2 separate regions of the Homo sapiens genome follow, and region 2 is linked to region 1. The links come from fine-mapping of genetic effects on gene expression. Tissue or cell type: whole blood. Region 1 holds a variant in brackets; the other region holds the start of a gene. All regions are shown on one strand. Distances are from middle to middle.

Region 1 (5,891 bases):
GCACTCCTAGCCGTGCGACCTCAGGCTGGTCACTGCTTTTCTTTGAGTGCCACCTCTGAAATGGATTAGGTTGGCCTTACAGGGTGGTTATGCAGAGTGAGTGAGACAGAACAATGCCTCTTGGTCCTTCCCGAGTATCTGCTAGGCACCCACAACGCGCCGGTGCCACCAGGCGCTCGGGATGCTCAGCATTTGGCACAGAGGCAGCAGAGCAGGGAGGTGAAGAGAGTGGGCTCTGGACCCAGCCTCAGTCCACATCCCGGTTCTGTCCTTTGATGGCCGTGTGAGGATAGTGACAGCCTGTCTCACTGGGTCGTAGAGGAGTAAATGAGTTACAGGCCGTGGAACAGTGCCTGGCACTGAGGCGGTGCTAGGTAAGTGTTTGCTTTTATTTTCGACTTCTGTCCAACCAGCCTTCTGTTGCTTTGACAGCTTCATGGGGCTGCTCTGGGCACTCAAAGGAGATATGTTGGGGATTCAGGGGTTGTGTTTAGGGGAGACCCAGGTCCTGCAGGTGCCCCATCATTCATACTGATGCAGGGGTGGCCTGGAAGCTGCAGAACCATTCACACTCGGCAAAGCCTTCTCTCACCTTGGAAGCATCATTCCTAATGACGACACAGGTCTCCCAGCCATGCGTTCCCACATAACTTAGAAGCACCCATCCCATTTTTATTATTTGCTCAGAGCCTGCTTTTTCAGTAGGCCGTAAACTCCATGAGGTCAGGTACTACATCTGGCTTATTCTCTGATCATCCCTAGAGCCTTGTGTGGTTCATGGAGAAGTTCAAAACATGTTTGTTGACGGACTTACTGACTGACAAAGTCTGCCAGCCTTATGTTGGTCTACAATGTTACACTCTATCCCATGCCTCCTGCTGAGTTTTACCCTCCTGCTGTGATGCAGGCTGTGGGATCTGGAGCTAGACCCCCTCAGTTGGAATCCTGGCTGTGCCATTGCCTAGCTGGGTGCCCTTGGGCTTGGTTTTCTAGTCTGTGAAATGGGGATAGCAACAGTACCTACCTATGTGGCTTGTTGCAAGTGAGGCCATCTCTGTATGTCACTCAGAGAAGTGCCTTGGATTAGTCAGTTCCATCAACATCAGGACTAGGCACGCACCTGGTGAGGTCATGTGGGGGTGGTGGTTGAGAGCCCAGTGGGGCTCTGCAGCTAGAACATCTGATTCAAATCCACCAGCCACTGTGTCACCTTGGCCAAGTTCTTTAACCTCCTTGTGCCTCCGTTTCCTCATCTATAAAATGGAGCAATAATAATACATATCTAACCAGCTTTTGAGCAAGCTGTATGTATGTATGTATTTATTTATTTAGAGACGGGGTCTTACTCTATTGCCCAGGCTGGAGTGCAGTGGTGCAATCTCGGCTCACTGCAACCTCCAACTCCTGGGTTGAAGGGATTTTCCTGCCTCGGCCTCCTGAGTAGCTGGGATTACAGGCACGCACCACCATGCCCAGCTAATTTTTGTATTTTTAGCAGAGATGGGGTTTGGCCATGTTGGCCAGGCTGGTCTTGAACTCCTGGCCTCAAGTGATCTGCCCTCCTCCGCCTTCCAAAGCACTGTGATTACAGGCATGAGCCACTGCCCCCCGCGAAGCTGTATTTATTTTATGTAAAGTGCATAGCCTAGGCCTGACACGTAGTAGGTCCTCAAAAGAGTCAGGCATTTTTCCAAGCCATTCAGAAAAAAACAACTCCTAGATTTTATCAGCCTTCCCTCCCACAAGGCCAGTGTGTCCCAGCTGACAAAGTTGCTGGCCGTGCTGACGTGAGGAAAAGCAAGGGCCAGAGAGGGCCAGACGCCTACCCTGGGTCACACAGGAGCAGTGGCCAACCTAGAATAGGCTAGGTCTTCTGTCTCGCAGCCTGTTCATCCTGAGTGCCTCCCTGGTTTCCAGGCCCTGCTGGCCTGCCCTCTGACCCTAGCCCCCTGGGAGCTCTATCCCAGGCCCATGGGGTCTGCAAATCTGGTCTGGATTAGACACGCTGAGAAGCAAACGCCAGCCCCCCCAGCCGGCTGCCCAGTGGGACCTGTGCTCACAGCTGCTGAGGCTCATAGGGACATAAATCATGGTGGCAGGAGACTCGGGGGATGGGACCACCTTAGCCTCCTAAGGGGCACAGGGGCCTGAGAGTCACGAGCAGAGGCACCTGGGTCTGCTGGGGATATTTTCCATCGTCTGTTGGACAAGCTAAAGCCAGGGTGCATCAGAGGGGGCCAGGACACCATTTGGCAGCCCTCGCATCACAGTAGGCCAAGATCCCAACTTCTTTTTAACTTTTCATTTTGCAATCATTTACAACATGCAGAAAAGTGACAAAAGTGGTGCAGAGAACTCCCATATACCCTGTACTCAGATTCACCACATTTTAAGTTTGTCATATTTACTCTATCCTTTTCTCTCACACATATATTATTTCTCTTCTGAACCATTTGAGAGAGCACGTTACCTACATCATACTTCTCCTTAATAGTACTTCAGGATGTATTTTTTTTTTTTTTTTTGAGACGGAGTCTCACTCTGTCACCCAGGCTGGAGTGCAATGGTGCGATCTTGGCTCACTGCAACCTCTGCCTCCCGGGTTCGAGCAGTTCTCCTGCCTCAGCCTCCCGAGTAGCTGGGATTACAGGCGCCTGCCACCACAGGGTTTCACCATGTTGGCCAGGCTGGTCTCGAACTCCTGACCTCAGGTGATGCGCCCACCTCGGCCTCCCAAAGTGCTGGGATTACAAGCTGAGCCACCACGCCCGGCCTAGGATGTAATTCTTAAGCACAAGGATATCCTCTGACACAATCAGGGTGCTGTTAGCAAATACAGAAAATTTAACTTTGATGCAATACCTTAATCTATTGTTCATATCCCAATTTTGTGTGACCATGTCTCAAAAAAAAAAATTGTCAACTCTACCAAGAAGGTCCCCTGTCACATTTTCCCCTCTGCAGTACAGGATCCAGTTCAAAGTCATGTATCGCATTTACCTGTTCAGGTCTATACTTGATATCACAACTACACGAGGTAAAATATACAGTCGTAAGAGACACAGATGGGGTTGAACAAAGACATCCAACTTCATATGTACGTCCCATGAACCAATGTTTCTATAAATCCTCTAATTATATGGTGTTCCACAATAATGCATCACGCT[CCTGA/C]CTGTGTGGAGGTAGTTAAGAGTTAACTTGCCAGGCCAGGCACAGTGGCTCACACCTGTAATCCCAGCACTTTGGGAGGCTGAGGCTGGAGGATTGCTTGAGCCCAGGAATTTGAGACTAGCCTGGGCAACATGGCGAAACCCCCTCAAAATAAAAAATTAGCTGGGCATCATGGTGCACACCTGTAGTCCCAGCTACTCAGGAGGCTGAGGCGCTAGGACTACCTGACTCCAGGAGGTGGAGGCTGCAGTGAGCCATGATCGTGCCACCTGCACTCCAGCCTGGGTGACAGGGTGTAACCGTGTCTCAAAGAAAAAAAAAAGTTAACTTACCAAATATGCCATAGTCTTCAGCACTCTCTTTTTGTAGTGCTTCATTTTTTAACCTAATAAAAGCCTCATAAAATGGGAGTGGCCTGGGACAATGAGGGGAACCTGAAGTGCTGTGGGTGCAAGAGGTCCTGTGTTCTCAGCCCTGCTCAGCTCCAGATGCTGTGCAACCGTGGCCCATCACCGCTCCTCTCTGAGCTTCAGGTTGCCATGGGTGACCTCTGAGGCCTTCCTGCTCATAACTGTGGAGTCAGAGAAAACAGCCCTGCATGGCAAGGAGGGAGATTTGTGTTCTTGGTGTCCCAACAGGGCCAAGGACCTGCTGGGGAACCCCAGGCAGGTTGCCCTCTGTCTTGTCTCACTTTCTTCATTGTGAAATGATGAACTCTGAGATTATTCTTGTGCTGCTGCTTCATGTGTCAAGACTTGCAGGGAGAGTGTAACCCTTTGGGGTCCAAGGTGGCCTGGCTGAGTCGGTCATTCCAACCCCTTCAGTCCTGGATTTCTTCTCCCTGAGCAGCTTTACTCCTGTGGCCTCAAGTTGGCCTGGAGAAGCTTGGCTGGGCTGGACCATCCCGGAGGCGACAGGCATGCTGGGGGAGCGGACAATGTTACAAAATGTTCCCCAGAGGAGCTGCCTATATATGCAGACCACACCTGTGCTTCTCCCCGGTCACGTGTGTGGGCTGACCTTGCAGCTCACAAAGGCTCATGGGCATTAACTGTCCATTACCAGGAAGATAGCAAGCTGCAAAATATGCATAATGGAGCACTATGCAGCTATGAAAAGGTGTGAAACAGCTCTGTAAGCAACCAAGGGTCTCCAAGAAGTACAGTTAAGAAAAAAAAATCCAGTGCAGAGAGGAGTGTGTGAAATGCTACCACTTGTGTGGAAAAACAATATCTATGTAATTTGCCTATATATGCAGACCATCTCTGCCGGAATCCATAGGATCCTGGTTACCTTAACATAGCAATTGCCTCTGGGGACTGGAGCTGGTGGCTGGGAGAGAAGGAGACTTATTGTCAGTTTATTCTTTTTTGTGTCTCATTCAAAGGAAAGAACCGGTATGTGTAGATGTGCAAGAGGGGCTGGCTCCTGGGAAGCTGCTAATTGCATTTCTTGATCTCCATGCTGGGTGTACAGGTGTGCTCAGCTTGTGAAAATCCATTGAGCTGTACCCTTACACCCTGTGCACTTTCCTGAATGTGTCTTATACTTCCATAAAAAGTGTAAACTTGGCCGGGCGCAGTAACTCATGCCTGTAATCCCAGCACTTTGGGAGGCCAACATGGGTGGGTCACCTGAGGTCAGGAGTTCGAGACCAGCCTTGCCAACATGGTGAAACCCCGTCTTTACTAAAAATACAAAAATTAGCCAGGCGTGGTGGTGCACGTCTGTACTCCCAGCTACTCAGGAGGCTGAGGCAGGAGAATCGCTTGAACCCGGGAGGTGGAGGTTGCAGTGAGCCAAGATCACGCCACTGCACTCCAACCTGGGTGACAGAGTGAGATCCATCTTAAAAAAAAAAAAAAAGCGTAAACTTAGCATGGTTTAAATGATTTGTTAAGCGTATGTGTGCTAGTTTAACAAAAACGCTGCAGAGCTGGGCGCAGTGGCTCATGCCTATAATCCCAGCACTTTGGGAGGCTGAGGTGGATCGCTTGAGCCCAGGAGCTGGAGACCAGCCTGCATAACATAGTAAGAACCTGTCTCTACAAAATAAACAAATAAATAAAATTAGCCAGGCCTGGTGGTGTATGCCCGTATTTCCAGCTACTCCGCAGGCTGAGGTGGGAGGATCACTTGAGGACAGGAGGTTAAGCCTGCAGCGAGCTATGACTGTGCCACTGCACTCCAGCCTGGGTGACAGAGTGAGACCCTATCTCAAACAAAACAACAAAAAATACTCGGTGGGATTATCGTCTTCACTGTGGCTGTCTCTGGGATAAGTGATATTTCTAGAGTCTTATAGCATTTTGAATTTGTTTTACAATGAAAGCACAGGCAGAGAAACCTATAAATATTTTTTCAGAAACAGTTATCAGTATAGAAGCTTTTTTGGAAGGACACTCAGGAAGCTGCCTCTGGGGAGGGGCCTGAGGAGGTCTGTACTTTTCACTGCATACCATTTGATACAACTTGGATTACTTACCAGTGCATACAGGGTCTATTAAAAACTATCTCACAAAGCAAAACAAATACTTATCTTTCTGTTCTAGCTGCTCTTACTAGTTAGAGACTGAGCCAGGGAGGCCCAGAGGGGTCAAGCAACATCTCTGGGGTCACCCAGCAAATCTGGTGGCGGAGTGGGCCTCCAGCCAGAGCACCCAAGTGTCTGCTCTGCCCCCACTCCCAGGCTTCCTGCCATTGACAAGGCCACAGTCCTT
Region 2 (5,891 bases), 54 kb after region 1:
TTGTCACAGGAGAACAGACTTGGCAGGGTGGACAGGGCACAGGGCTGGAAGGCAGAGGGGAGGCCTCTGCAGGTATTCAGCAGAAGATGCTGGTCTGGATGATGGTGTGGTGGGGACAGGGAGAGGTAGACAGGTTTGGGACACATTTACGGGGCAGGCCCAAGGGGTCTGGCAGAAGGGGTGAATCCAAGGGCAAGAGAAAAGGGAGAATCTAAGTTGACTTCCTGTTAGGGGCCCACACAGCCAGGTGGAGAGTAGGTCATCCTCTAAACAGGGAAAGTCTGGGGCAGGACGGGTGCAGGGTAGAGCACTCTGGGGAGACCCCATTAAGTGTGAGCGGCGTGGAAGGCCTCCTGCTGCTGGTCCACGGGTTCTCTCTCATGATTCCACAAATGATTATTCAGCAGTAAGGTGCAGCAGTCACAAGCCTGAGCTCTGGAACCTGGCACACCTGACTTTGGATCTCAGCTCCTCTCCACAGCAGCTGGGGCACACAGCCCTCTGAACACCATTCCTCACCTGTAAACTGGGAATAAAACATCCTAGAGGGCTGCTGATGAAGAGTCAGTGAGCTGATGCCTACCGGGCATTAGTGGAGCACTAAGGAGGGCAGCCGTGCCAGGCAGGCCTTGTGCCGGGTACTGGAGGCACGATGGTGGATGGCCAGAATGATGGCTCCCAAAGATGTCCACGCCCGAATGCTTCTGAATGTGTTACCTTACATGGGAGAAGGGACTTGGCAGACAGAATTAAGGTAAGGATCCTGAGATGCGGAAATTATCCAAGGTTATCTAGATGGGTCGAATGCCATTATCAGGGTCCTTAAAACTGGAAGAGGAAGTAGAGGAAGAGGTCAGAGTGATGCGATGTGAGAAGGCCTTGGCCTGATGTTGCTGGCTTTGAAGACAGAGGAAGAGGCCATAAGCCAAGCAGTGTGGGTGGCGTCTGGAAGCTGGGAAAGGCGAGGAAATGGATTCTCCCCTAGAGCCTACAGAAAGTAGTGCAGCCCTGCTTGGTGTTAGCCCAGTAAGACCCATTTTGGACTTCTGACCATAAATAAACCTGTGTTGTTTTAAGCCATCAACTTTGTGGTAACTTACAGTGGCCCCAGAAAACTAATACAGGTGTATGTAAGCAAAGGCAGAGCTGGTTCTGGCCCTCAGAGCCTACGGTTCTAGCACGGAAGGCAGGTGTCTAGACAGGACGTTAAAAGCCAGTGGGCTGTAATCCCAGCACTTTGGGAGGCCGAGGTGGGCAGATCGCTTGAGGTCTGGAGTTTCAGACCAGCCTGGCCAACAGGGTGAAACCCCATCTCTACTAAAAATACAAAAATTAGCCAGGCGTGGTGGTGGGCGCCTGTAATCCCAGCTACTTGGGAGGCTGAGGCAGGAGAATGGCTTGAACCCGGGAGGCGGAGGTTGCAGTGAGCCAAGATCGTGCCACTGCACTCCAGCCAGGGTGACAGACCCAGACAACGTCTTAAAAAAAAAAAAAAAAAGCCAGTGAGATCAGAGCTATGCAGGTGGGCACACAGGTGGCTGCAGGCCCACAGAAGCTCCTAACCCGGTAGGGATGGTCAGGGAAGATCCTGACACTGAGACAGGAAGACCGAGAAAGAGTGAGAAACGACAAGGCAGAGATAGAAGAGGTTCTCAACGGGAGAAAAAGCCCAGTGGTGGGACAGGGCATGCATGGCAGATCCCTTCCCATCTCAGCCAGGCGCCGTGCTACTATTGTGGCAACAGATAAGATGGGACGAGGTCCTCGCCCTTGTGGAGTGCACGTGAGGTCAGGAAGACAGAAAATAAAATGCAACACAAATAGATGTATAATATAATTTCTGGTGGACATAAGTGGTATCCTGAAAAACATCTCGGGCTAAGGGGAGAGCTAGAGAGGCCAGTGACTCTGACCAAGGGTGATCAAGGAGGCAGAGAGCTGAACCAGGCAGGGGAGCAGGCCCTGTGGTTGTCTGGGGAAGTGGCTCCAGGCAGTGAGGACACTAGTGTAAATACTAGGACTGAAAGTTATCGGGGGTGGCTGTAGAGGTGCTGGGTGGGGCTTAGGGATCTCATGTGCTCACCTTCCAAGGGTCGGGGGAAGGGGACACAACGTTATGTAGGCCTAACCTGACACCTGTTCTTGCGGGGCCCCCAAGTTCCTGCCAGAATCACTCCGGTATTCTTAACACCCTTCCTCAGTGGTGGAGCTGACCCTTGACCTCTCCCACTTCCCATTCAGACAAGGGCCTCCCAGCAGATATGACACACCTAGTCCCACTGTCACTGACTGTCACAGCCATGAGAGCCCACGGCTTATCTCCGGGTAGTGCGGTGGCCATGTGCTGGGCAGTGGGGCCCAGGCTGCCTGGGTGTGAATTCCAGCCGTGTCACTTTTTAAGCGCCTGATCTTAGTCAAGCCGCTGAAATCTTCCCTGCCTCAGTTCTCGTCTGCAAAAGAGCCACTATCTACCTCCTAGGGTTGGCATAGGAAACTGAGGGACTTCCTGCAGTTCCTGGACCACTGCAAGCACTAGCGTTATAAGCGTTATCATCACTACTTTAATTATCTCGCCCAATTCCCTCCTTGCTCAAGTGAGGAAACAGAGGCCCAGAGAGGCCCAGCTACTTGCTCAAGGTCACACAGCAGAGGCTGAGCTCCGGCTGGGCCCGGAACCAGTCCGTCTCGCGTCCATCGCAGCGACCTCCCTCCTCCGGCAACCTCCCTCCTCCGAAGCCCTCCCTCCGGTTGGCTGGACTCCCCGAGGCCTCACCCGGATCGTGTCCACGAGGCTCTGCACCTTGGCGGGGTCCAACACGGACGGCAGCGGCCGGATGAGCACGCTCAGCGGCACGTTGTGCACCGCGGCGATGCGGCCCGAGTGGATGCTGCCGCCCTGCGCGCCGCCGCTCGGCCCGGGCCCCTCGGGCGCCCCCCGACCCGCGCCGGCCCTGCCCAGCGTTCCTCCTGCACGCAGCCCCATCGTCGCCGCCGCCGCGGGACTCGCCGCCTCCCCCCGGCCTTAACTCCGGCCGGGCCATACCATTCCGCGCGGCCGGGGGGGGGGGCCCGTGCCAGGGCAGCGCGCGTTTCTCCCCCGACCCCGCCGCGGTCCGGCCTCGACCCCGCGGTCCCCAGCCCGACTCCGGCTCCGCTCGCCAGGTGCCGCCAGACTCGCGCGGGGCTCAGGCTCTCCACCGGGGGGCGCCTCTCGCCTCCCCTGCGCCGCGCGGCGTCCGGGGAGTGGAAACGCCCGGGCGGGCTGACTCAGGGTGAGTTTGCAGGTCGCGGGGCGGGAGGGGCGCGGGTGACGCACCGGCCGGGCCGACTTAGGCCGCGGGGGCGGGGGCGGGGGAGAGCGCGGCGGACCTGCCCAGCCAGGGTGAGTCGGCAAAGCCCGCGGTGCGCTGCTGCCCCGCTGCTGGGGTTCCTAGCCAGCGAGGTTATGATCCCCACCAGCGGTTCCACTTCCAGTCTGGCGCCGGCTGTGTCTGGAGTCGTTCCGAACATTTTGCACGTGTATTAACGTATCTGAACCTCAAAACAACCCTGCAAGGAAGGTATGACTGTTATTCCCATTTTACAGAAGAGGAGACTGAGACACAGGTTTAAGTGATGTACCCAAGATCACGGAACTAGTAAGTGGCCGAATCCGCGTTCAAATCCAGACGGTCTGGCTCCAGAGTCCGCCTTCTACCCCACCGTTGGCTGCCTTGGTTCAGCAACAGTGACTGTCACACGGAGCCCTCAGGAGTCGCGCTGACAATGGGTGGGCCCTGCCTTCAAGTTCCACACTGTCTGTTTGTGTCATTACAACACTACTGGAAGTAGGTGCAGTTATAGACCCGCTGTTCAAGGTCAGCTGAAATGAAAGTCAGGTCACACGAGTCCAAACTGTGGGGCCACTTAACCACCAACTCCAAGCAGGAAGGTGGACGATCCCAGACTCGGTCGAAGACAAGCATGTCTGGTTTGCTTGTCTTCCTTCTCAACCTGAATGGCACGAACATGGAGAAATGCATACTTACCCTGCCAGCTGGAGAAAACTGGAGACGAAGGAGGGAGCCAGGAGTTTCTACTTTGCCTTCCACCAGTTGCTGACACTTTCTGAACCCCGTCTGTAAAATGAAGTCATGCTGCCCATCACTCAAAGTTGTGTGAATTGAGAGAGTGCTCATAGTGCTCTGTGAATTGCATAACATCCATTTTGCTGTTGAAGATCATTTATTTTGGGTTCTTAGTCTCTCACAAAACCTTAGAACACTGACACCAAGACTCCAGCCTTTCCCTTTCGAAACATAATTCCCGTGCGCACCTAAATGATACTTTATTTCAAGAAGTAGAACTGACACCCACACCTCAGCCCCAGAATTATTCAGAATTAGAGAATTTCATCAAGAGGGAAGTTATCCCTTCTAAAACATCTTCCTCATTACAGGAAGTAAGAATGGCAGGATAACAGTTTCTAGAGTGGAAAAGTGGAGCTCTGGCCTGATTCTATCATCATGGTGTACCCAGGGAGGCCTCATTTCCTGGTATCAAATTCTCTGTGTTAAGATATCTATGGCCCAATTCAAAATGGCTTAAGCAATAAGAAGGTTTGTTTTCTCACATAATAAAATGTTTGGAGGTAGGTATGTCCAAGGTTGGTAAAGAGGCAGTTGAACAATGTGACCAAAGACTCCAGTTCTGGCTGGGCCCGGTGGCTCACACCTGTAATCCCAGCACTTTGGAAGGCTGAGGCAGGCGAATCACTTGAGGCCAGGAGTTCGAGACCAGCCTAGCCAACATAGTGAAACCCTGTCTCTACCAAAAGTACAAAAATTAGGCAGGCATGGTGGCGCGCGCCTGTAGTCCCAGTTACTCCAGAGGCTGAGACAGGAGAATTGCTTGAAACCGAGAGGCAGAGGTTGCAGTGAGCTGAGATCATGCCGTTGCACTACAGCCTGGGTGAGAGAGTGAGACTCTCTCAGAAAAAAAAGACCCTGGTTCTGTCTATCCTTTTGTGCCATCATCCTTGGTGTTCTGTTATCCTGCGGTGTGCCCCTCATGGTCCCAAGATGGCTACTGTAGCTCAAAACATCACATCATTACATGCGAATGTCCACAAGTGGAAGTTAGGACATCCCTTCGAGCCTCTTTTTAAGAGTGAAGAAACCTTCCCTGGCTGGATGCAGTGGCTCACACCTTCTGACCTTCCACTCCTCAAGCCCCGGAGTCAACTCTAGTCACACTGGCCTCCTTGCTGTGCCTCTTCCACAGCGAATGTGTCCTGGCCTCAGACCCTTTACATTTGCTGTTCCCTGTGCATGGAACGCTCTTCCCTCAGGTCATACATAGCATACATTACTGAGTGCTCTCCATGTGCCCAGCATGGTTTGATGCGCTTTACATATATTAACTCATGGAACCTAACAGCTTTATGAGACGAGTCTGTTATCTCCATCCCCATTTGATAGATGGGGCATCCCTGTGGGAGCTCTGCCCATTCCAGAGGTGCCAGGCCATTCACTAATGGGGGCAGGAGCCGGTGAGTAAATGCCAGTCTTGTGCTGTCACAGGTGGACGATTCAGAGAGGTGTTCTAGACCATTCAGATCTTTCTGGAACCTTCTCAGAGACCAGAAGTACTCAGCCCTATTGCTACAACTGACTTCACTAACACACCCTCTGTCCCATTCCTCCCACCCCTTACTTCTGCTTCCAGGGATCACCTCCCACATAAACGACTTACACTCAAGTCTCAGACTTGCTATCAGGGAACCAAAACTAAAACAAAAGGGAAACTTGATACTGGGTCATCCCCTATAGTTCTGTACCTTGCCTGGGTTAAAATTGCACTATTTTATTAGATGTGTGACCTTGGGCCAGTCACCTGTCTGTGCCTGTTTC

Evidence for each region. PIP is the estimated chance that this variant, and not a neighbour inherited with it, causes the effect.
Region 2: it holds the start of SRXN1, and the variant in region 1 is fine-mapped to the expression of SRXN1 in whole blood (INTERVAL, PIP 0.95).

The regions. Positions count from the first base shown.
Region 1 is chr20:596,662-602,552 of GRCh38, forward strand. No RefSeq gene overlaps it. Among named protein-coding and RNA genes, the nearest start is that of TCF15, 11 kb to the right of the region's middle. The variant CCTGA/C (reference allele first, on the strand shown) is at 3,168.
Region 2 is chr20:650,203-656,093 of GRCh38, forward strand. SRXN1 (sulfiredoxin 1) reads right to left here and starts at 2,998. Exons shown (of 2, transcript NM_080725.3): 1 at 2,774-2,998. The coding sequence starts at 2,983. LOC107985423 (a long non-coding RNA gene) reads left to right here and starts at 2,751. Exons shown (of 2, transcript XR_001754452.2): 1 at 2,751-3,272; 2 at 3,587-5,891. RefSeq lists a silencer at 2,876-3,435.